Linked DNA regions of Homo sapiens: region 2 is linked to region 1. The links come from fine-mapping of genetic effects on gene expression. Tissue or cell type: whole blood. Region 1 holds a variant in brackets; the other region holds the start of a gene. All regions are shown on one strand. Distances are from middle to middle.

Region 1 (8,336 bases):
TGTTGCTTGTATTGCCAATAAATCTAGTGCCCTTGATGTTTCATTGGTTATAATTTCAAAGACTGCCTGCAACCTTATGATGCAGTTGAGCATATAGATTGGGGTGTGGTAACCCCATGACCCATCTTGCACCCAGGTAGCTGGCCAATAATATTTAATTATTCTTTCAGGAGGCCATTCATTATCTTTCCAGTCTCCTATGTCCACATCCTTTTTGACATTTGTGTCTATTTTTGTGATTATGCTCTTCTAGTTCTTCTTTTATTTTCATCATCAACTGGATACCATAAGAGTTCCCCTTGCTTTAGAGGAATTAGAAAGAAGAATGGCTTGATTGTTACTACACACATGCTCCTGTCCATTTAGCTGGCAGTTGCCAATATGCCCATGCTCCACAGATCCAATATAGGCCAGAGGGTGCTTTCGAAGCATTTGGAACCTCTAGTTGATGCCAAGTGTGGCTTAGGGTAGAGAATGGAGATAAAGGATTTGGATCTGGTAAGTAGGAGTAATTCTGGGTGCTTCTCCATAGAGTTTTGTTTTTAGTCTCATCATAATACTGTTGCCCTAGGCAGGTTATTTCTCCTACTGCCTCTGTGAAAGCCTTTCCCCAACGGGCGATACGGTACTTTCCAATTATGGAGGTTTTTAACAACCAAACACTGGCTGAGGCTGTTGGTTCACTGGCAGGGTTAAGCGAAGTGAAGTTATCTTGTGGCATTAATTCCTTTGCCTCCCATGGCCACTGGTTCCCCATATTAGTTCCTCCACGTACATAGCATGAGGAAATTCCTAAGCTGCCAGCTATGTTTTCAGCTAGTTGAGCAAATAAGTTTTTGGTTGGTGGGGGAAGCTCAGGCACTGGCTTATCCAAATGCTTATAGAATGATTATGGACCCAGAATTGCGGGGTTGGATGCATTTGAGTCCTTTTAGTCTTTTTGACAATTAGTAGTGGAACTCCAAGGCCTGCTCCTAGTCTATCAAGTCGTTATAGTGCTGTCTGTCCTGTAGACCAGAAAGGTATCTCTGGCTTTAAGATAGTAAAATGTAAAGGATTGCATGTTCTTGTCTTACAGTTTGGTTTGGTTAACATACTACTTAGCAGAGCACTCCTTCCTGAATATAAATATTGGAGTTGTGTTAGTGTGGACCACTGAATGTTACAGTCTGGGCATCCGATTTGTGGTTCTTTGTACAGATGCTTAGGGCTGCTCCTGCTAAGCCTCTCTTGTGTTACACCATTGCAGACTGCTTCTGTTTTTTTTTAGGATTGTGAACATATGCAGCATAGCAGGCATCAAAGTACAAGGAAATAGGCCCTTTACAGGAGGGAGGGGCTTCTTTTGTTCGAGCTATAACTCTCCTTCTTTTTCTCCCTCTGATTTAATATGTATTTCAAACCAGAATTCATAGGGTAAGAGCTTAGGGTCATAACATACATATAGCTGATTATTTCCTGGGTCACAGACCGAATAGGTGGTCTGGTTGTATGTGCAGGTTCCTAACTTGGTTCCTGTACTGTAGGTATGGTACAGTAGAGTTTTAACTATGGTATTCCTTACCCAGGTAGTATGTACACAGTGTGGGCATCCTTCTAGAGATTTCTCCCCTTCTAGTATAGGCAGAAATGGTAACAACATTAGTGTATGTAATAGAAACATGCTTACACTACACATAGGAATGGCAAACCTTCCTCTGGGCATGGACATTTGCAGCATTTGCAGTAATAATGTAACAACAGAACAATTATAACTAGGCTTATAAATTTTATCTACATTTACTTATCTAGAGATGGTCCTCTTAGCTTCGGCTGTGTGTAGACTAGTCAGCTTCCAGGATGTGACTAGAGCAGAGCTTGCAAGATCTTCAAGCTTCAGCCATGTGTAGACTGACCAGCCTCCAGTGTGGTCAGAGCAGGGCAGTTGTCCTTCTTACTGGTGGTTGGGATTCGCCGTAGGTCTATTCGGGTGGGGCAATCAGGGTCTTGTTGGTTAATCCACTGGTCATAGTCGGGAGTCACTGCTGCTGCTAGTTTCAGCCAGCTATGGTGAATCCAAGGTGTGACACCTGCAACTTTAACAGCAGTAGAAGTAGACATGATTACAATATGAGGCCTATCCTGTATGGGTCCTAGAGTGGTTGGATTCCATTTTTTAACTTAAAGAAAATCCTTAGGTTTGAAAGGGTGTACTGGGTCTGTTAGACTTATAGGCATTTTTCTATACCTAGCCATGCATTTTTGCATGGCCATACTTAAAGTCTGCATTTGCCTTCTTAAAGTTACTTCTTCTAGTCTACAGATGATGGGGGGTGGCCGGCTGAACAAAATCTCAGAGGGGGAATACCCAGTTTGCTTGGTGGAGGTGCACCTGACTTGGAGGAGGACCATGGGCAAGACCTGATCCTACCTTTGATGAGTTTCTTGACACAATTTCTTCAGCAGTTGTTTTAGTGTCTGGTTCATGCTCTTCGCTTTACCTGAGCTCTGCAGTCTGTAGGCTATATGTTATTTCCATTTTATTTTTAATAGTCAAGTTAAGTCCTGAACTATTTCAGCCACAAATGTTGGTCCATTGTGAGATCTTAGAGTTAGAGGCAGTCCAAATCTGGGAATAATGTCTTTTAACAACACTTTGGTCACCTCTAGTTCCTTCTCTGTCCCGGTGAGGAAGGCCTTGACTTATCCTGAAAAGGTGAACACCAACATGTACTGATAGCCCCCATCACAGGGTAATTCGGTGAAGTTCATAAGCAGTTTTTCACATGGCATGGCTTCTGTTTCCTGAACTCCTGGGGGTGGAGTAAGCCCTTGTCATGGATTGTTCTGAACACAAGTTAAATATTGTTCATTTACAAATGGCTTGAGTAATAGCAGTGAGCCATGGCACATAGAAATGATGCCTTAATAATGTCTTTAGTGCTGTTTTTTTGTGTGTTTTTTTTTCAGGTCAGTTCCTTGGTGGAACTGTTTTACAAATCTGGGGGCCACCGTTTCAGGGATGGCTAGCCTCCCACTGGAAAATTTTTACTATCCTTCTTCAATGTAGTTGATATTTTTCTGGGCAAAACAAGCCCTTTCATTTGGAGTGTAGCTTGGGATCTACAGAAGGGGAATCTCTGGGAGGAGAGGCATAGCTAAGGCTTCTTCTTTAGAAGGTGGGGTTGTCCTGCTTTGCCTCTTTGTCTCATTTATTTATTTATTTATTTATTTATTTATTTTAGCCTTTAGTATTCTTCCTTTATGGTGCCCCTTGCAGTGCATCTCTGCCACATCTTTTAAGGCCTATACAGCATTTAAGAGCTGTAGAATTTCTTCCTTGTACTTTATTTCTTTACTTTCAGCAGTTAAAAGCCTTTTTTTTCTTTGTAAATAGCCTCATGAACATGGAAAGTGTCAGAAGCATATTTGGAATCTGTGTAAATATTTGTCTTTTGGTCTTTTGCTAGCCAGAGAGCTCTTGTCAGAGCTATTAGCTCTGCTTTCTAAGCAGAAGTTTCTGTAGGCAAAGACTGCACCTCTACTACTGAGTCCAAAGTCACCACTGCATACCCAGCTCAGCAGATTCCCTTTCGTATGAAACTGCTTCCATCAGTAAAATATTCTATGTCTGGCTCCCCAAGGGGCCTATCTGTCAAATCTCTCTGGCTTGAGAACACTTCATCTATCACATTTACACAGCAATGAAGGGGGTCTCCTGGTACTGACTTGATGAGGAGCAAGGTAGCCGGGTTTAGGGTATTCACAGTCTCTAAAGTTAGTTTGTTAGCTTATTGAGCCAGTAGGGCAGTGGCAGCTATTGCTTTAAAACAAGGAGGCCAGTGAAGTGCCACAGAATCTAATTGCCTGGATAAGTATGTCACTGGGTGATGCCATGACCTTATGGCTTGAGTTAGAACCTTCATGGCCTCCCTTTCACTTATGGGCATACAAGAAGATAAGCTTAGTTAGTTAGATCTGGCAGTCCTAAAGCTGGGGCCTGAGTCAAGGCTTTTTTTTTTTTTTTAATTTCTTTAAAAGTCTTCTCCTGGTTAGCCTCCTAGAGGAGGGGCTCTTTCTTTCCTTCTCTTTGTGGCTTAGCCATAAGCTAGAAATTTGGGATCTAAATGCAGCAGAACCTTGCTGCCCTTAGGAACTCTCTTATTTGACACCAGGTGGTTGGAGTAGGAAGTGCACAAACAGATTGCTTTTGTTTACTACTAAGCCATCTTTCCTCTTGGCTTATATAAAGGCTTAAATACTGGAGACTTTTAGAGCAGATTTGAGCTTTTTTCTGACACTTTATGTCCTGCCTTTCACAGCAGGTGCAGGGAGTCTTGGGTTTCTCCTGGGTGCAGTAGCCCTTGGCTGGAGGGTTTTTTTTTATACCATGGCCTTGACCATTCTCCTTATTTTATTTATTTATTTTTTGGGGCATTTATTCTTCTAGTGTCATTTCCTTTTGCACCGTGCACATTAATCTCTCTCTAGCCTTGGCCAGCTTTCAAACTCCTGTCCAAACCAGCCTTTTCCATGACTGTGTTCACGCCCACGACCATGCCTCCTTGCAAAGCCAGCTTCTCTTCCCATAAGGGCTGCTGCTAGTAAATTAGCCTTTGTTAAGCCTCTGATCAGCTTTCTTCTCTGCCTCCTGAACTCAGTTAATGTACACCTTGTAACCACTTTAATAAGCTGAGTTGCATTCACACCTACGGAGCTTCTAACTTCTGCAATTTGTGCCTGATATCTCCTTGGGCCTGCCTTACAAATGCTGTGTCCACCATGCACTGATTTTCAGCAGCCTTAGGGTTAAACAGAGTGTACAACCAAAATGCCTCAAAAAGTCTTTCTTAAAACTGGCTGGTGCTTTTATCTGCACCCTGGAGCACCTCTGAGATTTTTTATATTGGTTGCCTTTTTCTTTTACCAGCCTTTAGCCTTTGCAGAAGGGCTTCTTGGCACTTTTGTAGGTGCTGAAGCTGGACTGCATCATCTGGGTCCTAGTGGGTGTCCTCTTGTCCTCTTAAGAGGC[A/G]TAAGCATAACTTGGGCGTGACCAGACCTGAGACACCCTCCCTGACTTTTCCAGCCTTTCACTTTAACTTCCTGGAGCTCTAATTTCTCCTTCTCAGGTGAGACTGGGAGCCTGTATCTCTTTGAACTTAATTCCTTAGGGGCAGTTAGCCTTGGTAAAGGGAGGTAGATTGGAATGTAGGGAGGAGGGGTCTCTATTCCCTCCTGTGGTTCTTGCAAAACTGGTTTTCTCTTTCCTGAGACTTTTCTTTTGTCTCCGTAGTTGCCAGGGCAGCTGATTTTTACTTTTACTTTTGGCTTTCACTTTTCACTTTTGGTGCTACAAGCCTCTGTGACTTTACCTTTAACTCCGTAGCCGCCAGCGCAGCTGGTTTCTCTGGGTGTGAGCTGTGAACGTTCTACAATAAACTGCTAGGCAGGGCTGCATTCATTTAGCCATGAATCAATATAAAGACTAGGTCTGAATGCCCTGGCTGTCTTCCAGGGCTAGTCACTACCTTAAAACACACAGCCAATTTACCTATAGTGCCATTGGTCAGCCATCCATCACTAAAAGAGGGCTATTCTAATTCACAGTATGTCCTTAACTTTTGAACATCCAGTTTCATCCCATAATCAGCTCTAAATCCTTTTTAAAAATTCTTTATCATGCACTCCAAAAGGAGTTGGTTTCCATGCTTTTCCTCCCATTTCCTCCCTTGAGGTGCACTTTCACTCTAAGGTCCACCAGACTGGGTCCTATTACAGGAGTTTCAGACGCTGCTTAGCCAGGAACGTGCCTTTCCCTGCCACAGACTGCTGCAGCTGTGAAGCTCAACCTATCAGCCATATGCAACATCCTAGGACTGATTTCCCCCACACTCGCCTGGGAGCACACAGCCTGCGCTAAGGGATCTGTGCCTCCCCACATTACTCCCCGCATTGGCCTCTCCTGAGACCGTCTCTTTCACACACTTTCACACACCTCCCTTGCCTCAGGACTCCTCATCGGACAAAACAACCCTCTCTCGTGTCCCGGGTGAGCCTAGTTAGATTCCCACATTCACACACATACACACACCACTTCTACCCCAGGACTCTTCATCAGAGGAAACGAACCTCTCTGGTGTCCTGGGTAGGTCCGCACACACCCACACACTCCCAGTTGGGGTGGCAAGCCACTCTTACCATTCTGCCAGCAAACTCTTCCTTGCTGCACTTGCCGCTGTATCGGCCCATTTTCTCCACCAGTGAACCACTTTCACTTTGTTAGGGGGACACGAGGTTCATCCAAATTGGCGGGCCACTCCTGCCACCCCCAGCCACTCTGGGTTGGATGAGTGGTTGGTCCCTGGGAGGTGATCAAGCTCACCTTCATCCCTATGGGATGGGCTTTCCTACCTTGGGCCCTTTCTCCTTACCGCGGTTCCTGAAGTGCTGGTGTCATCCTGCAGCCCCATCTCAGGTTCAGTTGCACTGCTGGGCAGGATGCGGGGAGAGCCAGTCTCCATCCGGGTGAAACTCCCCCATGGCATGCCTTGGATGCCAGGTCTTCCACAGCCCCAGGGCCCTAGTCCCATGGGCAAAGGAGACAGTAAATCTGTTATCTCCAATCCCCATATGGGCCACCAGAAATGTTTGGGGATGATTTAGGAATCAGAGAGACCGATGGGGTTGAGGAGGATATATGTATTATTTAGGTGCACCAGCCAACCCAGTCAGATTAATATCCAAAGGACTGAGCCCAGAACAAAGAGTCAGGTTACCTTTTAAGCATTTTGGGGGTGGAGAGGGGGGAGGGAGAGATCTGTTCAGGGGGAAGCATATTACAGAAGTGAGAAACAAAGACAGTTATTCAATTGAGACATGCATTACATCATTTCTTACTTTTCAAGGAAAAACATGTTTTGCAACTTGGGTTTATCTGTCTAGTGACCTTGCAGCTGCACAGCTAGAGAAACAGGGTCTTCACAATGCCTGGGAAAGGGAGAGATAAGGCTCACTAGCCACAGACAGAGAAACAGGCAGTTAATTTTTAAAGGACTCCACCTCTTTCTCTTCCTCTGGGGCAACTGGGTTTTCTTACATACAACTGAGTTTTTGCTTACACATTCTTTAATTTCTTTTAATTCCTGTTCCACAGGTAGAAGAATGCCATTCACTCCCAAGTGGTGAGAGACAAGCAGCCAGTGGTAGGAAGGTCATCAAGTCAGTTGTCAGAAACCTCACTTATGTCACTGTTTTGCTATGTGACCCTGACCTAGTTCCTTGCCCTCTCTTGATCTCAGTTGCTTTATCTGTAAAATTTCACATTTTTCAGCAAGTCAACCTTCCATGTTCCTCTCATTAAAATATACTCACCCCTGGGACTGTGCAAAGGAGATTTGTAAAGTCAGGGGGTTATTGTGTTACATATTCCTTGTAGGTGGGAAACCTAAAGTCTTATTTTTCTATTAAAAATATATGAAGTAGTTGAATGAAAGGTTAAAATGAATTTTTAAGGTAAAACTTAAGACCCCAAGAAAAATGGAATTGCCAACTATGGCTTATAGGTAGCTTTGGGAGCAAACTCTTTCCATCTCCCAGGGACTGGGTGCCTTCAGAGACACCTGGGGGCAAAGTGAAGGAAGGCTGGAGATAAGAAAGGCCCCTTCTGCCTCCAAAACTCTGATTCTGTAAGCCTTCAGTCATGTCTCACATTATACACACAAACCATGCTGGGTTTGTTTTCTTGGAGTAATACTTGAGTTTTTAAAGCTCTTTATTTCAACCCCAAAAGGCAAACATTACAGCAAAGTCACATCTTATGCTGTAGTCTAATGTCAGAGAATTTAATTAAAACAGAGTACTCTTGAAAAATCCCTCGAATTTCCCAAAGTCAGTATGATACCATTTCACAGCAAGACCAGCAGACCTAGTGTTTCCTCTCGTGTTGGGATTATTTGCAGTTGCTTTGAACACCATAGAAGCCTTGCATTTACAATTGTAGTAGGCCCAAGGCCCTCTCAGTCCAGGGGAAGCTCCTGAGAAACAAGAGAGACTGAGGGAACCACAGATCTTATCTGCCATCTCAAGCTCATGCTAGGGCAGAGGTACATTGATCGCAGTAATTTTATATATAATATATATATAATATGCAAATTTATATATAAGTATAATTTATATATAAGTATATATATCATATAATTATATGTATATATGACATGTAAGTGTATATAATATATGACATATAAGTATATATTTTATATATTTATGTATAATTTTATATATAAATTTTATATATGAGATATAATATATAAATGTTTTTATATATTTATATGTAATATGTTTTATATATATTTATATTT
Region 2 (8,336 bases), 20 kb before region 1:
TTACTTTATTTCAAAATCAAGTCACCAAGAAAATGAGTTACTTAATAGGATCATGTCTCTTTCCTCCTAAAATCTTCACGAGACTTCCATGCACCCACCCATTGCACTTAGAATAGAATCCAAACTCCTTATTATGTCCATAAAGATCCTTAATGGCATGTCTCCTGCTTGTGTCTCTGACCTCACACTTTATCATACTTCTCACTCAGTAATCTGCCATCCCAGTCCCCCACCTATGCCTTGAAAATGTCAGCCTCAGGCTTTGCACTTGCTGTGGCTTTTGCCTGGAGTTCTTTTTCCCTAGCTGGCTGCTTCTCCTCCTTCAGGTCTCAAAATGTCACCTCTTAAGGGAGAACATCCTTAGCCACCTCCCCACACTCTCTCCATCATATTGCCCTGTTCTGTTTTCTTTTTGGCAGTATCACCATTTGAAATCCTCTTGCTTATTTAATTGACTTTTTGCTTATTGGCTTTTGCCTTTCTATCATAGGCATGTAAACCTCTTGAGAGCACCAACCTTGTCTTACATGTTTAAAGCACGCCTAAATGTTCCTTAAATATCCACTGAATGAATGAATGTATCATAGGTTTTCTATAATAAGCAGACGATAGCAAGTTCAAAAAGCTGAGGTTGGTAGGATATTTAGCTACATGAAGTCACTCAGAGAACAAGGCTGATAGAGACTTTGCCATTTTACGATGTCACTATCTCCATATATGGTTTCCAGGAGCATTGAATCAGGGGAAGAGAGTACAGAAAACTCATACCTGCTCTTAAATAAATGCCCTAGGCCAGAAGTGACTTGTAACACTTCCACATGGAGTTTATTGTTCAGAACTAGAGTTTAATGGCCTCACTTTAGCTTTAAGAGAGGTTGGGAAATGAAAGAGGAGCACACATAGAATGTTTGGAGAGTTTTCCTTTGTCCGCTGTATACCTCTTGTTAAAGATGAGAAAATTGAGGAAAAGAGGGATAAGAAATCTGCTCAATGTCACAGAGCTGGTAACTGGTAAAAGCTAGACTCAAGCCCAGGCTGCCTGGTGCCAGAGCCTGTCTTCTTGTCCATGCCTTCATGTTGCAGTTCCACAGGGGAGAACTACTCAGATGCAGAGAGTGTGTCAAGGGCTTTTCCCCCGTCTCCATTCTTTTCCGAAAAGTGGCTGCTCCTTCTCTTTAGTAACAGAGGTTTTTTGGTTAGTTGTTTTGTTTGTTCGTTTCTTTGTTTTTTGGTACTTTGATGCTTTGGGTGTTTAAGGTTTAGCTTACCATGGCCAGTCAACTAGCCCTGCCTTCTCACCTCTCCAGTGACTGGCCACAGAAAGCTAAATATTAAAAACCCAAACTATCCTAGCTTGCCACACGGTCCTGTCAGGAATGTCCTGGGTGTCTCCAGAAATCTTTAGCCATGACTTTGATCAGAAATAATTTCTTCCCAGCTTCAATGAAAATACTGGAGATCCCTCATTCTCTAACAATGCCCCAAAAATGGCTCCAGTAGAAAAGTCATAGTACAAGCCGCTACCTATGACTACCTTGGTTTATCCAATGCAATATCACTATCAACCCTCCATCTAAATGCCTGGTCCAGGTGCTTTACAGGCTTGGTGTCACATAATCCTTTCAATGATCCCATGCAACAAATCTTATTAACAAATCCTGCTTCATTTTACAAATGTCAAGACCAAGCTTTGAAAGGAAAATGGTTCACCCAAGAGCTTTCTTGTGAGTGCCTGAGGTTGGACTTAATTAAGCTCAAGACTTTGGGATTCCAAAGACCCTGCATTTTACCAGGATACCAAATTGTTCCTCTGAGAATCCCAAGTGAATAAAAAGAGCCAACATCGACTATGCCCAGCACCGTGTGCTACATGCTTTTTATAAATTATTTCATCTAGTTCTAACAAACAAATGAAGAAGCAAAGAAAACACCCTGGGAGGTAGGTATTGTTGTTATCATTCCTATTTTACAAATAAGGTAGGTGTTGGGTGCTGTGGCTCATGCCTGTAATCCCAGCACTTTAGGAGGCTGAGGCGGGCAGATCACCTGAGGTCAAGAGCTCAAGACCACCCTGGCCAACATGATGAAACCCTGTCTCTATTAAAAATACAAAAATTAACTGGGTGTGGTGGCGGGCACCTATAATCCCAGCTACTTGGGAGGCTGAGGCAAGAGACTCAATTAAACCTGGGAGGCGGAGGTTGCAGTGAGCCAAGACCATGCCATTGCATTCCAGCCTGGGTGACAGCATGAGATTCTGTCTCAAAAGCAACCGAAAACCAATTAAGGGAGGTGAGGCCCAGAGCAAGAAGGTCCACAAAGATGACATGGAGGTTAAGTGGCAGACCTAAGGCTCAAACTCAGACCTTTCTGCCTCCAGACCTCCAGAGCCCAGGCTCTTATCCATTAGGCTACACTGACTCTCAGCTGTCATTTAAGGGAGACTATGGTGATGTAGGGCTGGGAAGGGGGAGCAGGTTAGCCACAGAGAACTAGTGAAAATGCACCATTGGATCTAGTTCATTCACACCCCTAGCCATGCCACCGGAATTGGAGGTGACTTCGTATACGTGGTTTGTTTTTCTTTTTTTTTTTTTTTTTGAGACAGAGTCTCTGTCTCCCAGGCTGGAGTGCAGTGGCATGATCTCGGCTCACTGCAAGCTCCGCCTCCCGTGTTCACGCCATTCTCCTGCCTCAGCCTCCCGAGTAGCTGGGACTACAGGCGCCCACCACCACACCCGGCTAATTTTTTGTATTTTTAGTAGAGACGGGGTTTCACCGTGTTAGCCAGGATGGTCTCCATCTCCTGACCTCGTGATCCGCCCGCCTCGGCCTCCCAATGTGCTGGGATTACAGGCGCGAGCCACTGCGCCCGGCCCACATGGTTTGTTTTCTAAGTGATTATCTCTCCGTGGAGGCCTGTAATTGTTTCTGTCCTATTTTACCTGAGCATCTCCTCCCCCTACTGAATTACCCAATTCCTAACAAGTTCTCTGTTCAAGGTCCCCCTTCGCTGTGGCCAGAAGCCAAGTTCTGCTGGGTGCACAATCCTGCGGATCACCTGATCAGAGAGAACTGAACCTACAAAAGAGAGCTCAACCTCCTTTTCCATACCTACCAGGGACCTAGTTCAGCTACGTCCTAAACAGTACCAGGTAAGACAGAGGTGAAGGTCAGCTTCTATCTGTGTGTGTGTGTGTGTGTGTGTGTGTGTGTGTGTGTGTGTGTGTGTGTAATCCAATTTTAAGTTCTGGCAATGCTACTTTTAAGTTGAGTGACCTTGGGCAAGTCACTTAACTTCTTGGCACTTCATTTTAGAGGCAAAATGACAATGGTGATATTGGGTGAGAGGAATAAATAGGAACGTACATGTAATATGTTTAGCACAGTGGCTGGCATGTAAATGGGGACTGGTTTAGTGTCAGGCAGCTCTGAATGTGGTGAGCCGTGGGAGACAGGCACAAAGTCAGAGATGAATGTTTGAAGGAAATCTTTTCTATCTATGCAGAAGTTGGCTCACTTTCTATAAAGTGAATGCCTTCTAAAAAAAATTATCCAAGCATAGTAATACATGCCTGTGGTCCCAGGTACTTGAAAGGCTGAGGCAGGAGGATGACTGTAGCCCAGGAGATTGAGGCTGCAGTGAGCTATGATCACACCACTGCACTCCAGTCCAGGTGACAGTTTCAAAAAAAATGGTTAACATCTAATGGGGAGGGGGTTGGCTTCAGAATTTGCTGGGAGTTAAAAGGTACCTCAACATTTATTGAGTCCTTACCGTGCACTTCATTCAGTGCCAGCAAGTAAATTATCACACTAATCCTTATGGGGAGCTGGGAAGAAGGTATTACTACTGTGCGCTTAAGTTCAGAGACATGAACAGCACCAAAGACCCAGCTGCTAGACAACAGAGACAAACATCTAGCCCTGGCTCTGTAACTCTGGGATACCCTATAACACAGTAAGTATGTTGCTTCATTAAATAGCTTTATCAGTCCCAAGTCCTGTGAAGTCAAAGCTTAGTTGCAGGAGCTGTTCAAGGCACTATGTATCTGGGAATACAGTGGGGAGCCCAGCTGCCTCTCAAAGCTACCATGTCAAATTGCTTTCAGAATGCACTTTAAGCAGTTCAGAAAATTGTTCTTTAAAATGATTTCATAGGATGTGCTTTAATGATATGCTCTAACAGGGTAGGAACTCTTTCAGTTTAATTAATCTCCAATAGTATCTAAAACTGTACATGGTACATCTATAGTAAATACTTGAGAAAGAAAAAATACATTTTTCTATAACTCAGATAATTTGTGGGCACACTGGCTTTTCTCTTTCTGACTTTCATCACTCAGTTTTCTGAATTATGACAAAGAAGGGAAGAATCTAACTTTTTGTTGAGCACTTACTATGTCCAGCACGGTGAGAAATAGACAAACTAAGCTTTGTGAAGTCAAATCTGAAGACAGATGTGGATGGAAATAGATATCGAAACAGAGACAGAGACGGAGATAGAGATAGAGACAGAGATAGTGATAGAGATAGAGACATGCATCACTTAACAACCAAGATACGTCTGAGAAATGCATTGTTAGGTGATTTTGTTATTATGGGAACTCATAGAGTGTACTTACACAAACCCACAAAGCATAGTCTTCTACACATATAGGCGATATGCTATAGCCCATTGCTTCTAGGCTACAAACCTATGTAGCTTGTTGCTGTATTAAATACTGTAGGCAGTCATGACACGATGGTAAGTACTTGTGTATTGAAACATAGAAAAGGTACAGTAGAAATATGTCATTATAATTGTATGGGCCACTCTGTATATGTGATCCATCACTGACAATGACATCATATTGTGGCACATGACTACAGTGTACATGTGTTATTGTTATAGACATTAATATTAATGTATAGATATACACAGATAGTGATATAGGTATAAATGTAAATATTGGTATATAGATACAGAAATAGATTTAGAAATGAAGCTTAACATACATACAGAGATAGAGATAGACGCAGACATAGACATATAGATATCTGATTTTCAGTCCTCAACACTTGGAGATCAGGTTCTTATATATCTAGATAGATAGATAGATAGATAGATGATAGATAGATAGAAAATAGGTAATAGGTAGATAGATAGACGATAGATACATAATAGATAGGTAATAGATAGATAAATAGATGATAGATAGATAATAGATAGGTAATAGATAGATAGATAGATAGACAGATAATCAGTGAAAAAGCTGGACATATACCAGTCCTATGGTGTCTATGTTCAGGTATTCATCCCCATTCCTTCTCTTTAGACCTTAACTCCAAAAGTTAAGGAAATTTTTTTCCTCTGGCTTAACTACTCTATAAGAGCTTCCCTATAAAGTGTGTTAACTAGCAACAGCTCTTATTTCTAAAATACTTGTCCGTGCTGAATGCTTTTTGCAGGATATCGTGCATTTATCACCATGGCTTCAGGCAATAGGTGCTGCCAATATGCCTATGTTTTTATAGGGAGGTTAAATAAATTGCCCCAAGTTATGTGGGTGGGAAATGAAAGTGCTGGAATTTGAGCCCGTGTTGTTTGATCTCTAGGGCCATGCTGTTTCAGCTACCACAGTTCTCCACAGCTGGGCACTGTGTTTGGCCCTCTCATGTGACGAAGATTAAATTAGAATCACAAACACATTTGTGAGATGATGCCAAAGTCATTTCTTCTTTATTTGATCAAGAGGAGTACATTGGTTTGCTAGGGCTGCCATGAAAATTACTAATGACTGAGTGGTTTAAACAACAGAAATTGATTTTCTCAAAGTTCTGAAGGCTGGAGGTCCAAGATCAGGGTGGTTTTCTCTGAGGTCTTTTTCCTTGGCTATCTTCATATTCACATGGTCTCCCTCTGTGTGTGTCTGTGTCCTAATCTCCTCTTTTTATAAGGACACCAGTCATATTGGATTAGGGCCCACCCTAATAACTCATTTTAACTTAATTACATTTTTAAAGACCCAATCTCCAAATACAGTGGTGTTCTGAAATATTGGGGTTCGTACTTCACCACATACATTCATGGGGGACACAGTTCAAACCATGATAACTGGTTAATGGATTCCCTCACTATATCTCTCCCTTTTGTTTTGGTCTTTAGTCACTTAGTAAGGGGTTGTTTGGACTGTCTTCAGGAAAAATGGTGAGTTTGTATTTTAAGGAAGACCCTGAGGTCATATAGACACCTGCATAGAAAAATTGCAACTGAGTTTGATATTCTCACCCAAACTAAGCTCATGCCTGTGGAAGGAGGTGTGTGTTGGAAAATGTAACAGAGGTGATGGGCTTCTAGAACCAACTTGGCTACAATATTGTTTGAAATGTTTGTTCCTTGGTGCCGTAAAGAAATAGGACTTGAATGTAAATTTAATTTACTCAGCAAGGCCATTTTTACTTCCTGCAGAAATGGTACACTTGCCAGCAGTTTTGCCAGGAGAGTACATAGAACAAAGGAGACAGGGTCATTTATAACCTGACGCATCCACCCTACTGCTGTGTCCGGTTTCCACTGGCTGGAACGGGACCTCACATTCTGTATTTGTCCCGATTGGCTAGCAACTTAGAACTTTTTTAAAGAGGCAAAGGTAGAGGAGAACAAAGGAAAGAGGAAGTAACTCGTGAAATGCTGAGAAAGATTAAAACACTTTTAAATAAGCAAGAGGAACAGGCTATGGCCTAATGCTTGCTTGGACCAGTATAAGAATGCCAGGGCAAATATTTAGGCTAAATTGTGGGAGCTAAGAACATAAAGTACATTGATTTCTTTATTACGGTTAGCAGATATTTAAGAATCTTAGCACAGGACTTTGAATAAATTTTGCTTTTAAGAGAAGTTACTATTTATTCCTAATTAGATGGGGAGGAAAGTCTTTGAAGAGGAACCTCTATTTTACTTTTTACAATATTAAAATTGCATCATGACTTTGGGGAAATTCCTGCCTCTCCTGGGATGTTGGCCTAGGTTAGAGATTTTAAGCTCAAATATACACAGGGGCTGGACAGCTACAATAAGTGGAGAAGCAGGCAGGAGGGACAAAATAAAGTGGTAGGAACTGCATCAAACTGGAGAACATCTCATTTAAATAAAGCAGACAATTCTCAGCTCCAGCCACTTGACAACAAGTTGAAATAAAGACCCAGCATCACTGGCCATTACTAGTTCTATTGTCTATTATATGGGTCTGTTGTCAGCCGGTATTTTATCATTGTTGAAAGTGAGCAAGAGGGAACTTAAATGTTCATGATGATAAAGTGCTTCAATCTCAAAGCTGTTTGAGAAATAGCTTTCTTCAGTCAACATTTACATGGAAAGAAAGGATCCAGCTTAAGCCATTTTTTCCAATCAAACTTCAAGAAGGATCCTAATAAAGGAGGTTCCTGCTGTCATGTTGGCAGCATATTTCAGGATCTGAAGGGGCAATGAGGTTTAATTTTATGTGTCAACTCTGATGCATTGGTATCAGCTGTCCTGAATGCTACTCTAGGGAAGAACTCAATGCCACATCCCAGTCCATTGGAAAGTGCAGTGACATTAGCAGTGAGGACTAAGATCTGAATTTTTTTTTTTTTTTTTGAGACGGAATTTTGCTCTGTTGCCCAGGCTTCAGTGCAGTGGCATGATCTCGGCTCACTGCAACCTCCGACTCCCAGGTTCAAGTGATTCTCCTGCCTCAGCCTCACCAGTAGCTGGGACTACAGGCAGGCACTTCCATGCCTGGCTAATTTTTCAAATTTTTAGTAGAGACAGGGTTTCATCATGTTAGCCAGGATGGTCTCAAACTCCTGACCTCATGATCCACCTGCCTCAGCCTCCCAAAGGGCTGGGATTATAGGCATGAGCCACTGTGCCTGGCCTAAGCTCTAATTTTTTATCTTGCTGAAATTCCTATCTAAGGGGCTTAGGGAGTTATGCCCTACAAACCATAAATTCTCATCAGATGGGTTTTATTTAACCCTGTATATCAAGACTTACTTTCCAATCAGACTCTGGCATAACAAGAAGAAAATCAAAATGTTTTACCCAAAAATATATTTCCTTGCCATACCTTGAAATTGCCCTGCAAAGTCTCTTGTAGGAAAAATCCACATTCTATAAAGAACCCCATTTCCTCTTTGTTTTCTTTCCTTCCTTCCCAGATCCAGGAGACAATCAACTAAGAGCCACATACCCTTTTAGGTCTAAGACATATTTTACAACCTGCTCTCTCTCTGACGTCTGGTGTCTGAGAGATACCGGTGCACAATAAAACTTGGTCTCCACAAAGCTTTACCTTAACCTGAACATTCCT

The links.
Region 2: it holds the start of ACSM1, and the variant in region 1 is fine-mapped to the expression of ACSM1 in whole blood (TOPMed, PIP above 0.99). The same link has a PIP of 0.9 or more in esophagus muscle, sun-exposed skin and tibial artery.

What each region holds. Positions count from the first base shown.
Region 1 is chr16:20,672,897-20,681,232 of GRCh38, reverse strand. The region is part of intron 4 of ACSM1 (acyl-CoA synthetase medium chain family member 1); the gene reads left to right. It also overlaps a transcript of ACSM3 not described here. Among named protein-coding and RNA genes, the nearest start is that of ACSM1, 21 kb to the left of the region's middle. The variant A/G (reference allele first, on the strand shown) is at 5,012.
Region 2 is chr16:20,692,455-20,700,790 of GRCh38, reverse strand. ACSM1 (acyl-CoA synthetase medium chain family member 1) reads left to right here and starts at 3,111. Exons shown (of 14, transcript NM_001318890.3): 1 at 3,111-3,155. It also overlaps a transcript of ACSM3 not described here.